Linked DNA regions of Homo sapiens. The protein of the gene in region 2 purifies or fractionates together with the protein of the main gene of each other region. This does not show direct contact. Each region holds a gene or a part of one and is shown on either strand. Other genes may lie near its edges.

Region 1 (3,655 bases), on a different chromosome or scaffold from region 2:
CTGGGTGACAGGGTAAGATCCTGCAACACACACACACAAACAATAATAATAATTTAAAAAACCAGCCAGGCATAGTGGCTCACACCTGTAATCCCAGCACCTTGGGAGGCCAAGGAGGGCAAATTGTTTGAGGTCAGGAATTCAAGGCCATCCTGGGCAACAGGTAAAATCTCTGTCCCTACAAAATAAAAACAAACAAAAAAGCTAGGCGCAGTGGCTTATGCCTGTAATTCCAGCACTTCAGGAGGCCAAGGTATATGGATCACCTGAGGTCGGGAGTTCGAGACCAGCCTGGCCAACATGATAAAACCCCATCTCTACCAATAATACAAAAATTAGCCAGGTGTAGTGGCGCATGCCTATAATCCCAGCTACTCGGGAGGCTGAGGCATGAGAATCATTTGAACGCAAGAGGCAGAGGTTGCACTGAGCCGATATCCTGCCACTGCACCCCACCCTAGGCAACAGAGTGAAACAAAAATTTTGCTGGGCATAGTGGCGCATGCCTGTGGTCCCAGCTACTCAGGAGGCTGAGATAGGAGGATCACTTGGGCCTGAGAACTCGAGGTTGCAATGAGCCATGATGGCACCACTGCACTCCCGCCTGGGTGACAGAGCTAGAACCTGTCTCAAAAAAATAAGGCGAGGCGCAGTGGCTCATGCTGTAATCCCAAAACTTTGGGAGGCCAAGACAGGCAGATCACCTAAGGTCAGGAGTTCAAGACGAGCCTGGCCAACATGGTGAAACCCCATCTCTACTAAAAAAAAATACAAAAATTTGCCAGGTGTAGTGGTGCATGCCTGTAATCCCAGCTACTCAGGAGGCTGAGGCAGGAGAATCACTGGAACCTGGGAAGTGGAGGTTACAGTGAGCCGAGATTATGCCACTGCTTTCCAGACTGGGTGACAGAGTGAGACTCTGTCTCAAAATAAATAAATAACCAAGGATTTAACATTTATGTAGATTTCACACCACGTAAGTACAGAACCACATACATTAAAAACAAAGAAAAGAAAATAGACCTCCTATTTTAGCAAGCCAAAATCAAGGTTACAAAAAGATATCCTGAAGGGCAAGTACTGTCCGTGACTGTATTCCATAAAACAAGCCTGTTAGGGGGCCGGACGCAGCAGCTCACGCCTGTAATTCCAGCACTTTGGGAGGCTGTTGGGCGGATCACAAGGTCAGGAGATCGACACCATCCTGGCCAACATGGTGAAACCCCGTCTCTACTAAAAATACAAAAATTAGCTGGGCATCACAGTGTGCGCCTGTAGTACCAACTACATGGGAGGCTAAGGCAGGAGAATCGCTTGAACCCGGGAGGCAGAGGTTGCAGTGAGCTGAGATCGTGCCACTGCACTCCAGCCTGGTGACAGAGCGAGACTCCATCTAATTAAAAAAAAAAAAACAGGCCTGTTAGGAACCAGACTGCACAACAGGAGCTGTGTGAGCATTAGCACCTGAGCCCCACCTGTTAGATCAGGTGCAGCATTAGGTTCTTATAGAAGCACAAACCCTACTGGGAACTGCATATAGCAAGAGATGTAGGTTGTATGCTCTTTATGAGAATCTAACAAATGCATAATGATCTGAGGTGGAACAATTTTTTTTTTTTTAGACGGAGTCTCACTTTGTCCCCCAGGCTGAAGTACAGTGGTGCTATCTCAGCTCACTGCAAGCTCTGCCTCCCGGGTTTCATGCCATTCTCTTGCCTCGGCCTCCGGAGTAGCTGTGACTACAGGCGCCCTCCACCGCGCCCAGCTAATTTTTTTGTATTTTTAGTAGAGGGGGGTTTCACCATGTTAGCCAGGATGGTCTCGATCTCCTGACCTCGTGATCTGCCCGCCTCGGCCTCCCAAAGTGCTGGGATTACAGGCGTGAGCCACCGTGCCCGGCCGGTGGAACAGTTTCATCTCAAAATCATCCCCTGCCCCTATGGAAAAACCATCTTCCACAAAACCGGTCCCTAGTGTTAAAAAGGTTGAGGACCATTGCCTTAAAATACACAGCATGATCTTGTGTATATATTACGTTTCTATTTATTTCAAGGGAGGGGCCCCAGAACTTAAAATTTAAAAATAAAAATAAAGGGAGGGGGCTCGGTGCAGTGGCTCACACCTGTAATCTCAGCACTTTGGGAAGCTGAGGCAGGAGGATCACTTGAGCCCAGGAGTTTGAGACCAATCTGGGCAACATGGCAGGACCCTGTCTCTACAAAAAATTTAAATGTTAGCCAGCTGGTGTACACCTGTAGTTCCAGCTACTCAGGAGGCTAAGACAGGAGAAATGCTTGGCCCCATAGATTGAGGCTGCACTCCAGCCTGGGTGACAGAGGGAGACCTTGACTCTAAAAAAATAAATAAAGGGAGAGGTGTAATAAAATCCTACAAATATTGCTTTGGGCAAGTCCCCTAATCTCTCAAAGCTTAGAGTTTTTGCCTTCCATTTTTAAGATTTAGGATTTTTTGTTGTTGTTGTTGTTGTTACTGTTTTTTAAGAGACAGGGTAGGCTGCGCACGGTGGCTCATGCCTATAATCCCAGCACTTTGGGAGGCCAAGGCAGGTGGATCGCTTAAGGTCAGGAGTTCGAGATGAGCCTAACCAACATGGTGAAACCCTGTCTCTGCTAAAAATACAAAAATTAGCTGAGTGGGGTAGCAGGCACCTGTAATCTCAGCTACTCAGAAGGCTGAGGCAGGAGAATCGCTTGAACCCGGGAAACAGAGGTTGCAGTGAGCTGAGATTGCACCACTGCACTCCAGCCTGGGAAAGAGCAAAACTGTCTCAAAAAAAAAAAAAACACCTTAGCTCATGAGGCTGGGCGGGGGTGGCTCACGCCTGTAATCCCAGCACTTTGGGAGGCCGAGGCAAGCGAATCACCTGAGGTCAGGAGTTCAAGAGCAGCCTGGCCAACATGGTGAAACTCCATATCTACTAAAAATGCAAAACTTAGCCAGGCATGGTGGCGGGTGCCTGTAATCCCAGCTATTCGGGAGGGCTAAGGCAGGAGAATTGCTTGAACCTGGGAGGCGGAGGTTGCAGTGAGCCAAGATCACGCCACTGCACTCCAGCCTGGGCGACAGAGACTCTGTCTCAAAAACAAACAAAAAAACCCTTAGATGGTAACAGTAACATCATAGATGACCCAGATATCCTTTGGAAAAAAACAAAAAAAACACAAGTACTTTCATTTAAAAAGATACGGCAGCGGCCAAGCACGGTGGCTCATGCCTGTAATCCCAGAACTTTGGGAGGCTGAGGCAGGTGGATCACCTGAGGTCAGGAGTTTGAGACCATTCTAGCCAACATGGTGAAACCCTGTCTCTACTAAAAATACAAAAATTAGCCAGGCGTGGTGGTGTGCGCATGTAGACCCAGCTACTCAGGAGGCTGAGGCAGGAGAATCACTTGAACCCGGGAGGCAAAGGTTGCAGTAAGCAGAGATCGTGCCACTGCACTCCAGCCTGGGCGACAGAGCAAGACTCCGTCTCAAAAAAAAAAAAAAAAAAAAAAGATAATAGGTGTGACTGTTAATAAACTGTTTACATCTCCGTTGAAGTTGTCACAATCACTTGAAATAGCTAAAAAAAAAAATAGGGTTTTGTTCATGCTCAACTATTTACACAACATCAAAATACTATCACTAGTCAA
Region 2 (2,563 bases):
AAGGGGGACATATTTTTTATACTTTGTATCTTGGCCACTGGGAAAGAATAATAATTTCTCAGCTTTCTAACTTGCTTCAGGCTCTCTTCTTGGTTGTTTGCCAAATGTCCATGCTCATTCTGTTTTCCTCTTTGCTTTTTCTTTTGATTCTTTGTTTCTTGTCTTGCCTATTTCCTACCATTCCTTTGCCTTTTTTTGTTTAAAGCATTCAGTAATTACCAGCCAGAAACAGTTTTCATTCTCAACAAAGTAACTACATCAGTAACAGGTATACTCTTTGTCTCTCCATAATTGAAGTTTCTATTGTACAGGCTACTTAAAAAATAATTTTTTTTAAGATTTTTCGGTTCTGAAATTTCAGGACACCTAATGGCTGTTCTTGAATAACACAAGTATTACCGCTCTTGGAAAGGAGAGCCAAGAGGGCTCATTAGCTGCAAAGAGGGGCAACAGGAACACCCTTAGCAAGTTCAGTCAGGTTAGCTGCTTTAAAGTACTGCCAGAAAAGTTTCACTATACTATCATGTTTTTATGAAAGGTACCAAATCAGAGTTAAGATATTTGAAGCTGAGAACCCTTTTAACCACAGACCAAATATAAAACTGTCACTAGTCTTAGGCTAAGCCACCAAAGCCAATTTACACCACAGAGTAACTCATTTTGCTAAGAGTATTGCCTGCTACAGAGGACAAAAAGGAAGGCCCAAGAGGCCTAGAAAGCTGCCACCGCAAACATCAGAGCAGACACAGGACAAGCAGGAAAGGAAGGGGAGGGCCTCTGGCAGCAGGCACTTGCAAGCACAGGGGGATGTAGTCAGTTTTTCAAAGCCAGAGGATACTGAACAGACACCCATTTGAAAATGTTTCATGGGTTAAACTGAATATGAAGTAAACAAAAAGTACACCACATTTAAACCTAGTCCTAAATTTTAATCTATATACATTTCTATCTGCCTCCTTTTTGCATGTCACCAGCAAACAATGTATAATCTTTTAAAAGTGCTAAAAGGATTTTTTTTACACATCTGTATTCTTACAGATATATAATTTGTGATGTCATGACACATAAAAATCACAATTTTCATGTAATTTAGAGGCCCTCCCAAAAATCCCTTCTAAATGTATTTTACCAAAATCTCATACAAGTGTTTAATTAATCCCTTGATTTGAAACTTCTTTTGGATAACGTTTTTGGAACTACTCAAATGTTAAAGAGCATACACCTTCTTCAGTTCTTAACATGGACAAAGACCTACTGTTTTTCATCTCCAGCAGTGCATTTTTTTTTTGTCAAGAAATTTATTAACCTTTATAAACACTATTTTCACTCAATCATTCATAAAAAATGATTTGTGATTAAATCTGTAATAAAACCATATAACGTTCATCAATGCATTCAATAAGACCAGTTTCTTCCATGGAACATAATAAACCACTTTAAAACAGCAGTTTTCATTCATGTCATATAAGGCTGTCAAACTAAAAGTATTCCTTATAATGAGTTGTTACCCAAGAAATCCATCTCACTTCCCGTGATGTGGAGCCTGGTGATGTGCCCTCTAAGAGTTGGGTCTGAAAGAAGACTCTGCCCCTTTATGGCCACCTCCCCAGTCTCTCTCAAACAAGTTTCACAACAGGAAAATATTTATGAGCAGAGAAATCAAATTCAGGAGGAACCTGTTAAAGAAAAACGAAACTCAATTAATGTATCTACAAATATTCAGATGGTACACAAAACAAAGACTATTTTTATTTTAGAGTTTCTTGTGTTCTTAGAAACAAGGCAGCACAAAATAGATTTTAAAAACTAGGTTAATGACAAAAAAGGTAGGAACTAACCTGGAAGAAAAACGATTAATTTGTTTTTGAGTTTTATGAAGATCATAAGAAAACAGGCTGACCAGCTGTTTTCTATCTTCAAAGAACAGTTAAAAGATAAATAGTCAAAAATTATAGGAAAGGCATTCAGTTAGATCAGGGGTCAGCACACTTTTTAGCTCCAGGTAACTGATAGAACTAAGCAATGAGATGAGAGTCAGTCAGTAGGAAACCAGGGCAGGAGAGGAGGAAGGCAGATCACAGGAAACAATGGAAGAAAAGGTGCACAACACACACAGGCAAATGCCCCCACGGTGCCTCCGCGGCTGGCCTCTCCACAGCGCAGAATCTCTGCTCTGAAATGATGACGTAGCATGGATGATATAACATTACCAAGAAAAGCTTAGACTCTTCCTCTTCTGAGCCATTACAAAGAAGTCTTTCATTATTAAAGCATTCACTTTCCCAAAGGCAGATGACTTTTAAATACCTCATACTTCTCCCATAAAATTTCTTTACATAAATTTTCTTTTTTTACCCCAAGTTATTCAGTAATTTACACAGCAAGGAGATGGAAAACGTATAGGCAGACTTTAGAAATTTTAACTCAACAAAATACACATCTCAAGACAAAATGGCAAGCTCTAATTTTTTGCTGCTGAACTAAAATTTTTAGAATGATTTTTGTTCAGTGGTTTAATTTTTCCTGTAATATTTACACATCTTATTGCAAAACTTATGAAACT
Region 3 (3,655 bases), on a different chromosome or scaffold from region 2:
TCCACTGTGGTCCTGGAGTAAGGAAGCACCACTGGGGATGTGTAATCTGGTAACTGGCCTTTGGGTTTGGTGTAACTAGAATAGAGAGGGCATAAAGATTACTGCCTTCTTAGACTATCTCATGTGTTGAATGTATAGCAACCCTCCATCACCCCTGACATCAGACCAGGACAACCTCCAACTTAAGGGAAAAAGTGTCCTCAATATGACCTAATGACCTAGTAGATAATAGGAACCAATTTACTTATATTTTCAAAAAGAGCCAGATTTTGTTAATGAGCTCCAGAAAGTATCATTTTAGGACAGTCTGGTTAATTCCTATAGCAACATTACCCTATCCACAAAGACTTACATTCTCACTAGTTTCAGATAGTCCCAGATCTTTTCCAATAGGTCATCAAAATTCCAGCGGTGATGGGCAGAGATGGGTACACAGTGAGGCACCTTATAGATGATATCCAATTCCTCAATGGAGATTTGGTCAATCTTATTTAACACATAGATACAGGGGATATAAACTCTACAGAAAGTGAAGAAAAACAGGGTATTAGTCTGGAGTTGTTGACAGAACTGTCAGACTGTTGAACAGCACACCCTCACCCAGACCCAACTGGCGCTCCCAAGAGGGACTGTAAGTAGCAGATCAGCCAGAAAAAGAAAAAAGAAAAAGAAAAAGTGAACTATGGGTTGAAAAGTAACAGAAGTCAGGCCCTAGTACCAGCCACAAAGCTAACTGCTAGGAAAGCATACTGCAGTGGAAAGAACACAAGCTTTGAAGTGCTCAGACTGATTCTAATCCCAGCTGGCCCTCCAAATATGCAGGTTTTGCATCCCTGAATTCAACCAACTGCAGATCAAAAACCCACAGACACGGAGGGTCAGCTGTACTATACCATTTTATATAAGGGCCTTGAGCATCTGCAGGTTTCATTATCTGCAAGGGGTCCTGGAAGCAATCCTCTGTGGATATGAAGAGGTGATGTTATGTGTCCCTAGGAAAGTCACTTAACCTCTGAGTCAGTTTCCTACAAGGCTGTTTTAAAACATAATTTATACTTAAAGACTAAAAAATAAGTGTTTTATTTATTGGTACAATAAATAATATTGGTAAAACTGATATAGCATCTACCAATGTCATATTCCTAGTGTCCAATCAATATGACAGCTAAGGTTACTACTAATTAGGCAAGCCACAACTTCTCAGGTTTAACTGCCTCACTTGTAAAATGCCTAACTGAAAACACTGGCTTCTGTTTGTTTTCAAATGAGGAGTAAGTACACTCATCCAACATACAGGAACAAATGACTAGGAGAGCAACTAAAAATATTACATGCAAATGCTATGAGTAATTTTAACAGTGACTTAACTTATTAAAGTCTCAGTAATATTAATGGGCTGGGCATAGTGGCTTATGCCTATAATCCCAACACGTTGGGAGGCCAAGGCAGGCAGATTGCTTGAGCCCAGGAGTTCAAGACCAGTCTCGGCAACGTGGTGAAACAACATCTCTACAAAAAATACAAAAATTAGCCTGGCTTGGTGGCACACGCCCATAGTCCCAGCTACTCAGGAGGTTGAGGTGGGAGGATGGATTGAGCCCGGGAGTTCAAGGCTGCGGTAAGCCGTGATCACACCACTGCACTACAGCCTGGGCGACAAGAGCATGACTCTGTCTCAAAAAAAAAAAAAAAAAGTAATGTATCATGAAACAGATATTCAGCTACATACTCTTAGGATGGAGAAAACAGACACAGCCTGGCCTGCTCGGACTTCTGTAGGACACAGCCTATATAACTTCTCAGGTGGATTAATTCTGGAAGAGCAGACTGACCTACTACTTTCTTCAACTATCACATGACAAAGTTTAGGGGGCAGCTTAGTTTACAGCAAGTAACTGAAACGGAGAATTTCATAGGAAGAGGCTGTAAAAGAAAAAAACTGAAATGGGGAATATGACCATCATAATTAAATTTAAAAGCAAGGAAGGATGTCAGAAATAAAAACTAATCCCTCAGTTTACCCCTAAAGAAACCAAAGCCAGCAGGCAGGGTGACTGACGCCTGTAATCCCAGCACTTTGGGAGGCAGAGGCAGGCAGACTGCCTGAGGTTTGAGACCAGCCTGGCTAACATGGAGAAACCCCGTCTCTACTAAAAATACAAAAATTAGCTGGGTATGGTGGCGGACACCTGTAGTCCCAGCTACTTGGGAGGCTGAGGCAGGGGAATTGCTTGAACCCGGGAGGCAGAGGTTGCAGTGAGCTGAAATCGTGCCACTGCACTCCAGCCTGGGGGACAAAGCAAGACTCCAAAAAAAAAAAAAAGGGGGGGGGGGCGGGTGCCGGGCACAGCAGCTCATACCTGTAATCCCAGCACTTTGGGAGGCTGAGGTGGGTAGATCACCTGAAGTCAGGAGTTCAAGACCAGCCTGGCCAACATGAAACCCCATCTCTACTAAAAATACAAAAAATTAGCCAGATGTAGTGGCAGGCGCCTATAATCCCAGCTACTCAGGGGGCTGAGGCCGAAGAATCACTTGAACCCAGGAGGTGGAGGTTGCAGTGAGCCAAGATCGCGCCACTGTACTCCAGCCCAGGTGACAGAGTGAGACTCTTGTCTCACAAAAAAAAAAAAAAAAAAAAAAAAAGAAACCAAAGCCCCACTATCATTTAAGATAGTAACACAGGCTGGACGCAGTGGCTCATGTCTGTAATCCTAACATTCTGGCAGGCCAAGGCAGGCGGATCACTTGAGGTCAGGAGTTTGAGACCAGTCTGGCCAACATGATGAAACCCCGTCTCTACTAAAAATACAAAATTAGCTGGGCATGGTGGTGCACACCTGTAATCTCAGCTACTTGGGAGGCTGAGGCAGCAGAATCGCTTGAACCTGGGAGGCGGAGGAGGTTACAGTGAGCTGAGATCACACCATTGCACTCCAGCCTGGGTGACAGAGTAAGACTCTGTCTCAAAAAAAAAAGGCCGGGCTCACACCTGTAAACCCAGCACTTTGGGAGACCGAGGTGGGGTGGATCACCTGAGGTCAGGAGTTCGAAACCAGCCTGACCAACACGGAGAAACCCCATCTCTATTAAAAATACAAAATTAGCCAGGCGTGGCGGCACAGGCCTGTAATCCCAGCTACTCAGGAAGGCTGAGGGAGGAGAATCGCTTGAACCTGGAAGTGGAGGTTGCAGTGAGCCGAGACTGCGCCACTGCACTCCAGCCTGGCTAACAAGAGCGAAACTCTATCTCAAAAAAAAAAAAAAAAAAGAAACCAAAGCCCACTATCATTTAAGATAGTAGCACAGGCTGGACACAGTGGCTCATGCCTGTAATCCCAACATTTTGGGAGGCCGAGGCAGACGGATCACTTGAGGTCAGGAGTTCAAGACCAGCCTGGCCAACATGATGAAACCCCATCTCTACTAAAAATACAAAAATTAGCTGGGCGTGGTGGTGCGCACCTGTAATCCTAGCTACTCGGGAGGCTGAGGCAGAAGAATCTCTTGAACCTGGGAGGTGGAGCTTGCAGTGAGCTGAGATCACGCCACTGCACTCTAGCCTGGGCAACAGAGTGAGACTCCATCTCAAAAAAAAAAAAAAAAAAAAAGACAGTAGGACAACTGGAATTAAGATAAACTTCTGCCAGATTCA

What was found.
Region 1: the proteins of NAA35 (region 2) and ATXN2 fractionate together in Homo sapiens (co-fractionation; one large-scale study listed by BioGRID). This does not show direct contact.
Region 3: the proteins of NAA35 (region 2) and DRG1 fractionate together in Homo sapiens (co-fractionation; one large-scale study listed by BioGRID). This does not show direct contact.

What each region holds. Positions count from the first base shown.
Region 1 is NC_000012.12:111,589,288-111,592,942, forward strand, and holds part of ATXN2 (ataxin-2), read right to left. Parts: intron 1-3,655. UniProt on the Homo sapiens protein: Involved in EGFR trafficking, acting as negative regulator of endocytic EGFR internalization at the plasma membrane.
Region 2 is NC_000009.12:86,021,014-86,023,576, reverse strand, and holds part of NAA35 (N-alpha-acetyltransferase 35, NatC auxiliary subunit), read right to left. Parts: intron 1,677-2,563; coding exon 1,617-1,676; 3' UTR 1-1,616. UniProt on the Homo sapiens protein: Auxillary component of the N-terminal acetyltransferase C (NatC) complex which catalyzes acetylation of N-terminal methionine residues. N-terminal acetylation protects proteins from ubiquitination and degradation by the N-end rule pathway.
Region 3 is NC_000022.11:31,423,480-31,427,134, reverse strand, and holds part of DRG1 (developmentally-regulated GTP-binding protein 1), read right to left. Parts: intron 521-3,655; coding exon 353-520; intron 76-352; coding exon 1-75. UniProt on the Homo sapiens protein: Catalyzes the conversion of GTP to GDP through hydrolysis of the gamma-phosphate bond in GTP. Appears to have an intrinsic GTPase activity that is stimulated by ZC3H15/DFRP1 binding likely by increasing the affinity for the potassium ions.